2 separate regions of the Homo sapiens genome follow, and region 2 is linked to region 1. A link means that fine-mapping ties the variant in region 1 to the expression of a gene that starts in the linked region. Tissue or cell type: whole blood. Region 1 holds a variant in brackets; the other region holds the start of a gene. All regions are shown on one strand. Distances are from middle to middle.

Evidence for each region. PIP is the estimated chance that this variant, and not a neighbour inherited with it, causes the effect.
Region 2: it holds the start of CRIM1, and the variant in region 1 is fine-mapped to the expression of CRIM1 in whole blood (TOPMed, PIP 0.96).

Annotation. Positions count from the first base shown.
Region 1 is chr2:36,303,450-36,307,840 of GRCh38, reverse strand. No RefSeq gene overlaps it. Among named protein-coding and RNA genes, the nearest start is that of CRIM1-DT, 50 kb to the left of the region's middle. The variant A/G (reference allele first, on the strand shown) is at 2,351.
Region 2 is chr2:36,353,579-36,357,969 of GRCh38, reverse strand. It overlaps CRIM1 (cysteine rich transmembrane BMP regulator 1), which reads right to left and starts at 2,192. Exons shown (of 17, transcript NM_016441.3): 1 at 1,347-2,192. The coding sequence starts at 1,677. It overlaps CRIM1-DT (CRIM1 divergent transcript), which reads left to right and starts at 2,400. Exons shown (of 2, transcript NR_037631.1): 1 at 2,400-2,882; 2 at 2,989-3,221.

The DNA of each region.
Region 1 (4,391 bases):
TTTATAAACAATCTCAGTATAGTCACTTAAGGGCACTGCAGAGGGTATGATATGTGCAGGGTCCAACAGTAACTTAATTGTCAATCGTGCCTGTGTAGTGAAGCTTCCACAAAAATCGAAAAGGCCAGGGAGTTTTCAGATAGCCAAACACATGGAGGCTTACACATTCACATGCTGCCAAGTCCTCAGGGACAGGAGCTCCCACACTTGGGACCCTTCCAGATCTTGCCCTGTGAATCTCTTCATCTGACCATCTGTTTGGATTCATTAAAATATCCTTTGTAGTGAACCGATAAATGTAAAAAAAGTTTGTTTTTGCTGTGGTGGGTGGGTGTGGCAGGGTGGGAAACACTGAAGATATCAATGAAAAAGTAGTGATTGGGCTGGGATGTTAAGGATGGGTAGAATTTGTTAGGTGGGCAAAGAAGTATTGTTAGCATGAAAAAAACCACTGCCTATTCTTTTTATTTTAATTTTTTTGTAGAGATGGGATCTCCATATGTTGCCTAGGCTATTCTCAAACTTTTGGCCTCAAGAGAGACTCCCAGCTCAATCTCTCAAAGTGCTGAGATTATAAGCATGAGACACCATGCCTGCCCCTGATCACTGCCTATTCTAATTGCTTCAAGAATCCATGTGAAGGGGCAGAATTTGGAATTTTCAGAGCCAGTTCCTCCACCAATATGTGAGTCAATTTTTTTTGTTTTTGAATGAACATGGACTAGAAGAGGGAGTTGAACAGCATTGGGAAGTAGTTAGTTCTAACCGTGCTATTGTAAAATTTCCTTTCCTGAACTTACCATGTATAGCTCTTCTACATGCAGGTGTGTGTGTGTGTGTGTGTGTATCTAGACTTATATTTTTCTTCCTTTTGCTATTGGAAGATGGAGTACAGTATTACTGTGACAATATGTAATTTGATAAAGCACCAATCATATTTCTGATTATATTTATTATTTTCTTACCATAATTAATCAGTATTTCATTAGTATCACATTACATATGTGATATATATAATTATTGTTTACATGTTTAACTGCTGTACCAGCTGTGTGCTTCTAGAAAATGTATTGTTTAGTTTTTTGTTAAACAGTTGTTGTTTCCAGATGGAAACATGTCATCAATATACTTTATTAGAAATTTTAATTTGGCTGTGGCATTCACTAATCAGTATATAGTCAATTAATATTTAACAATTTAAAAAAATTGCATGAATTGCACTGAAATTCCCAGTAATATCTTGTTGCATACTCTGAGCATTGCTTCAAGGAACACTTCTTCAGACAAGAAGATATGGGGTCATATAAAATATCTGGAACAATTGCATGAAATTTGTGATTTTTAGAAAGTCAGATTTTCAAGATCGGTAAGAGTATCTGATTGCAATACTGATTTAATATGACATAATTTAATAAATGCATTAATAATTGGTCACTGAAGAGCATGTTAATTGATTTGTACATTTGCCCAACACAATATAAGGCAGGCAACTACATGCATGTAGACCATGCATTGACAAAGACAGGATGTTCTCTACATGTGTCTCTATATGTGTTATGGCCTGCATAGTCCCAGTGGGAGCTATTCTTTGAAGTTATAATTGAAGTCACTGGGACATGTTATTAGCTCTTAAAGTAATTGATTTACATAAAGCCTCAGAAAAACACTGAATACCTAATGCAAACCCATAGCTGTAGTGATGTTAAATGTAAATAGCCTCTGGGAACTCAGTTCATACAGAGTTTGACACAAAATGTCACCAGGAAACTTGTGCATCTCTGATGTGGGATCATAAAAGAATAAAAACTTTAGTTGATAAATATATGGAAGACCTGAGGATACTCCATGGTCATCGCAGTTATTCTGTGAAGAGCTGATCATGTGAGAAGACTAGTTTCCTTTGGGCAATGTGTGGAAGAAGAGAGTAATACAGACAGCATATTTGGAGTCTAGTGGGTTTTATTTCATTCCACATGGCATTAACATCGGCAGGAAGTACTGATGTTATATGGAAGCACTGATGTTCATATAGTAGTACTGACTTAATGTCTATCCACCTGGGTTAACGTTGTCGGTGGATGACACTGGCTTAGCATTTTATTTTTTTAATCACTAATCTGGATAATGTAATTATGAACATTATTGTGTGTGGACAGCACCAAGATGGAAGGACTTAACACTTCACAGCTCACATACAAAGAGCAGAGCATAATCTTTTGTGTCCAAAAACCTGAGAGCAGTTGCAAATCCTCTTCAGTGACCTAACAGTAGTCTGTGGGTGATCACTAAAATGAGAAAGTACAAGGTGCTACCTTCTGTAGGACCTACTGAGTTGTTAAGAATGACCTGC[A/G]TGACATTTTGTTCCAACTCAATAGATCTGTACTTAGTCAACATGTAAAGAGACAATAAAACATTGTTCAAAACTCTTGAACTTGCCCCCAAATTTCGGCTGTGTTTTGGTAAGCTATGAATATCTTTTTTCCATCGCTCTTTATTTCTTTCATAATACTTTGTCTTTGCTAGTAATTACGTATTTTTGTGTTTTGGATTTACTAGTTTTAAAAGTAGCGGGACTATGTCTTTTTAAGAAAAATGATCAAGGTATTCCAAGTATTCAACACTTAGTTTGTGTTCTGAGTTTTTTGAAGAATAAATGAGCTACATATTTACTGGCTCTTTCGCAGAAGCCTAGGATTCAGCAGGTTCTTCTTCAAGGACTCTAGTTTGAACTTGAGCCATGCTGACCACTGGGTTCAGACATGTCAGGCATGACTCATTTTTTAGATGTGGGGGAAGGCAGGTGGGAGACCAACGAGAGTCTGTGTCTATTTTGTTGGGATAACTTACATGGGAGGAAGAGCGAGGGAGGCATGGTCCCTAAGCCCTGTTTCCATGAGGGTCCTGTGAGACATAGGACATACATGATGTGTAATGTAAATACGCAAGAGACAATCACTTCTTCTTTCTAGAGCTGTTTTGGTACCTCAAGGGTTGGCATCTTTTGGGAGGGTACAGGTATCACAGGCATGAATGTCTCAATAGAGGAATGGTACCAGTGATGAAAGAGAGACACATTCGATGAAGTGGACATCAAGCAGAGGGTGAAGGAGAAGCAAGTGGCAGAAAGTGTGCATCCTAGACTGTCTCCTAATCCTGGCACATTTTTGGGCTTTCCCAGATATAAGTAGGGGAGGCTTTGACTTTTTAAAGTAAGTGGGAATAAAAGCCAATGTGCTGTGCATTATTTCTGTGTCCGTGACATTATCTGCACCCACAACTTCATGAAGTCTGGGGAAATGTAGGCAGCATTTCTGCCAGAACATTTTTTTAATGCCTTTCTAGCTCATTGGTTGGCAACCTTTTACTTAATAAGGCCAACTGACATCTTTGATGGTAACTAATTGTCTTCCAGACTTTTGGTCAAAAAGTTTTGGGTTGGAGATTCCATGAATTATGGCAAGTTTATTTCTAATTTTCCATGTTTGTTTCTTGAAGGAAGAAACAATAGCCTTGACTTTGTACTCAAGAAGAATGTAGATTCTGGGTGTGAACTCCTATCCTAGCTGGGAAACTCCAGGAGGGCAAAGTCTGTGTCTTAACTCACTTCTGTATCCTCAGTGCCTACCCAGCTCCATGTCTGGTAAACAGGAGATGTTCAGGAAATCTTTTTTTTTTTTTTTTTTTTTTGAGATGGAGTCTCGCTGTGTCGCCCAGGCTGGAGTGCAGTGGCGCAATCTCGGCGCACTGCAAGCTCCGCCTCCTGGGTTCACGCCATTCTCCTGCCTCAGCCTCCCGAGTAGCTGGGACTACAGGCGCCCCGCCACCACGCCCAGCTAATTTTTTTTGTATTTTTAGTAGAGATGGGGTTTCACCGTGTTAGCCAGGATGGTTTTGAGCTTCTGACCTCATGATCCGCCCGCCTTGGCCTCCCAAAGTGCTGGGATTACAGGCGTGAGCCACCGTGCCCAGCCAGGAAATCTTTTTGGAACAATGTTTTATTCTACTTCATAACCATCACAGGGCAGAGTACGTAGAATCATTATTTTCATGGAAAAAGAGAAATAAAAAAGCAAATGAGGGACTCAGCGGATCCCACAATGCTAGATGTCTGAATTTCTAAAAAATCATTTTCCCACATCTCTGCTCTCCACTTTAACAGCTTGATGCTCTGACTTGCTCCCACCTGTGCTCCTGAAGATTCCACCCTACCTGTCAGCTGGGTTCCTGTCAGCAGGCAATGTAGCCCATGCAGGGAACATTCTGAAACTTGCTTAGTGCCTTTTTCCTCTACATGTTATTCCTCGTACTAAGGATTTTAGGTTTAAATTGACTTGCGTGGGACACTCACTGAGATTTGTAGAGAGAAATCCCTGGCTAGAAGGCAGGGATGA
Region 2 (4,391 bases), 50 kb before region 1:
GTGTGTGTCTGTGCGTATTTAGAGAGAATCACAGCACTGAAGCCTTTTAATAGGTCCATTGTTATCCTTAAGGCTGTCACCTCCTTTTTCAGTATCCCAGCATACTAAACAAACACACACAAAGATGCTTCGGAATAAACCGTTCCCTGGACGGTGCTGGCTGTGAGTAGTGAGGAAGGCACGCCGGGCAGAGGGCGCCTGTCCCTCCTCGCCGCCTCCCCAGAAACGAGGCTGCTGCGTGCGCTCTGCTCACTCGCCAGGATGCCCCCGGAACAGCATCATCAGCCCAACGTCAGCCAGAGCAGGGATCCCACTTTTAACTGATGCTTACCGAACCGTGCCCCCGTTAGCCACATCAAAATAACTCACTGCCTCGCTCTAGACCCCAAACCAGACCAGGCACCCTGAAGGCCGACGCAAGCGGGCAGGGATTAAAGCCAACACGCACTAACATTGGCTCCCCAACGAGAAAGACTCCACTAATCTAATCTGTTTCTCCCACCGTCAATCTCGACACCGCGGAGCACAATGCGTGCTGGAGAAGCCAGCAGAACAATCCCCGCTGTCAAACAAACAAAAAGGAGGAACCGGCAACACGACAGGAAACACGCGGGTATCTGATATTAAAAAGCAGCCACTAATAGCAACAACTTTTTACTCCCAGGTGCAACCCCCACCCCCCTTTCCTTTCAGGAGAGAAAGCCTTTGACCGTTTACAATGGGCAAATAAATGAGTAACCACCGTGTGTAACTTCCCCTGGGCTGACATATTCCGCGGCTGAAACTGATTTATCTGCGGAGGAGGAGGAAGGGGTGAAGGAAGAGCTCAAGGAAAAAATAATAAGAGTCACTCGGGGAGTGCGAGCTGGAGACACGTCTCCTCCGCCAACAGAAAAAGGACTTTCGCGGCCGGCGTGCGGCTCACGGTGCCACACTGCGCCAGTGCGGGGAGGGCGGTAGGGCCGGGCTCCCCGAGGGGCTCGCGCGCGGCAGAATCTGCAGTGCCCCCCGCCCGCGGCGCCCCCACCTCGGGGAGCAAGGCCGGGCCACCCAGTCCCAGCAGGAACGGCCACACGTGTGCGCGTCTGCGCGGGGACAGGGGCGATCCTCCACTCGCTCGCCCCCACCCACCATACCCAACCTCGCCCGCGACTGCCTAAGCGTCGGGGGGAACAAGGAGAGGGAACGCAGGGCCGCGGGGGCACTCTCCTGGGGGCGGCGGCCGCCCCTCTTCCCGCAGAGCCCTCTTTCCTCCAGAAAGTCTCGCCCAAACTTTGTTCGGCACAACCAGCGCCGAGGGGGCGGCGCAGGCCAGGTGGGAGGGGGCCCGCAGCGGGCGGCCGTACCTTCGCAAACGCCCGCTTCGTACTCGGTGAGGGAGTCGCCATTGAGCGGGGGGCGGATGACACAACGCAGCCCCCGGTCGCAGGTTCCGTAAATCCCGAAGGTGCCGCCGCAGCTCTCGTTCCTCTGGCTGGCGCACGTGTAGCAGCAGCCGCAGACGCCCTGCACGATGCTCCCCGGGCAGTTCCTGGGCTCCTCGCACTTGGACTCGTCACAGGGCAGGCAGACCAGCGCCCGGGTGCCGGAGCGCGCCAGCAGCAGCAGCAGCCCCAGCAGCGAGACCAGGAGGTGCCCGCAGCCGGCCAACCCCCTGTCCCCCGCCACCAAGTACATCCTCCTGCGCCGCCGCCGCCTCCTCCTCGCAGCCGGGCCGGGAGCGGGGCGGGCGCCCTCCCCTGCGCGGGGCACACGCGCCGCCGCCGCCGCACCAGCAGCCCGCGGTCCTCACCGCCCCTCTCGGGGCCCCCGGGGCGCGCCTCCCCTCGCGGGGCGAGGCCCCCGCCCCTTCTGCGGGCCGCGCCGACCCCGAGCCCACGAGCCTTGGCGCCGGCGGCAGCTTCCCCTCCTCCTCCTCCTCCTCCTCCCGGGAGGGAGGGGGAAAAAAGAAAAAAGTTTCCTCCCGGCAGCTCCGGTTCAACCCAAACTTCTGGCGCGGCGGCGGCGGTGGCTGCTGCGCTCGGCTCCAGCCCGGGCCGGCGGCGCCTCCTCCCTCTCCTCCTCCGAGTCGGCCGGCCCCGCAGCGGCGCAGCCTCCGGGCCGGTCCCCGCCTCCCGAGCTGCCGAGTGGGCGCGGTGGCGCAGCACAAGATCCGCGGCGTCCGCTCCGCGCGCCCCGCTCGCCTCACTCCTGCGCCGCTCCTCCGGGCGCTTGTTTATGGCTGGAGCCTCAGCCGCTCGGGCTGCGCCCTCCCCCATCCTACCTCCTCCCCCAGACCTTCCCCCCACCCCCACGCGCCGCGCGCCGCTCATTGGCTGCCCCCCCTCCCCGGCCCGGCCGGCCCCCTCCGCCTCCCCCTCCCCCTCTCGGGCGGCCGGGCCCTTCCTCCCTCCCTCACACGCCTCCACCTCTTCCCGATCTCCTCCTCCCCGAGCCCGGCGCACCGAGCCGGCCGTGCCACCGAGCTGCGGCTCTGGCCCCGGCGCCGCGGGTGCGCTGCGGATGGGCTTGGGGCGCACCCAGCGAGCAGCGAGAGTCGCGGTGTCCCGGGCGCTCGCTGGCACCGTGGCCGCAGCGGCCGGCCTGGGAGCCAGGAGGGCGAGGCGGCTGCACCTTCGGGGCCAGATTGGAGTTCGAAGAGTGGCGGGTACCCCAGAAGCTCGGGGCCGGGGCGATGGCTGCAGCCTCGGGAGGGTATCGCCGGATCGAACTCCGGGAAAGGGAAGCAAAGGCATGGAACCTCCGCACACTGGATGAGAATCCATCTTCCATTCGAGCTGGGAATAGACTTTGTGAAAGATATTATGTAATGGAGTCTCGGGAACCCTGAGACCTCTCCAGCGAAGCTGAAGTGAATTAATTAAGTGCTTTAAACGGTCTTGGTAAATATTCCGCGGGAGCTGGGGAGGACCGTTGGGATGGCTGTAGCTTGAGTTGAATTTTAACTGTCCTCATTCTGGGTTTTGTCGCTCTGCTTTCTGTGCCAAGGTGCTGTGTTACGGGAGAGAGTGACTGGAAAGTAACAAAGCTGAATCTTTCTCCCTGGAGTAAGGCCGAAGACTGGATTACTACACGCCTAGACGTGACACTACACCCATAGATCTCATGCATCATTAATGCCATATGACATTGCCATTTTCTTTCTCAGTTCACGGACAAAAGTGGTGGGTTTTCATTGTCTTCACTGATTGTCAATGCATTAATAAAGAAGATGTGTGGTACATAGTCTTTGTGATAAATCAGGTAAAGAAGCAACGGAAGTGATGCAAAATGCACGGTGTGGAGATGGTTTCTCTTCAGTGGTTGTCAGAAAAGGTTTTCGTAATGATGGCTCTGTCATTGATGGGATATGAAGTAGTAATCCGCTCCGTAGTGACCTACCATTCACAAGATGGGTACCAGGTGAATAACATTAATTAATTGACAAAAAGTGACTGTGGTCAATGGGGGAAAAAATCGATCCCGTGGCAGGTGTGACGTGGGAATGGCTGGCCCACCCTCTGATCCAAGATGGTCTGGCTGCAGGAAGGTGGCAGCCAAGTGGATTCTGAAAATCGTGACTAATGAACCGAAAGTTAATAGCTGGCAGTGCAAGGAAAGAGGAAACAAAGCTACCTTTGAAATGTTATGTTTGTGGAACAAATTCATACTTACGATAAATATTTTAGTTTAACCACTCTGTCTAATCCTGAACCCAAAAGCCAGAGTTACCAGTGGACTATTCCCCCATGATGGGCATCAGCAAACTAAACATTTCTCCTATCATATTTCTTTGTCCAAGGAGAGGAAGAGGCTCATTAATTATCATTGATTATTATAGGGCCATGAGGAAGATGTTCAACCGTGGAAAAGGGGAGAGAGCATTGCATTTTCTAGACGGGTTTAAAGAGTTGTTGCAATGAAATGATTCCTGTAGTTGGGTGGGAAGTCCGATTAGATGATCTCCAAAGGCCCTCATACCCTGTGGGTCCATAATAAGTGTTAAGTGGCAAAATCGTTTAAAATATGCTAGGTTTTCTATTAGAAAAACCGAAGAGACTGGGCGTGGTGGCTCATGCCTATAATCCCAGCACTTTGGGAGGCCAAGGTGGGCAGATCACTTGAGGTAAGGAATTCGAGACCAGCCTGGCCAACATGGTGAAACATGGTGAAACCCTGTCTCTATCAAAAATACAAAAATTAGCCGGGTGTGGTAGCGCATGCCTGTAATCCCAGCTACTCAGGAGGCTGAGGCAGGAGAATCACTTGAACCCAGGAGGTGAAGGTTGCAGTGAGCCGAGATTGCGTCATTGCACTCCAGCCTGGGCGACAGAGCAAGACTCTGTCTCAAAAACAAACAAACAAAAAAACTGAAGAAAAATAAAACACACATTGTTAAACATTGTTCTTTC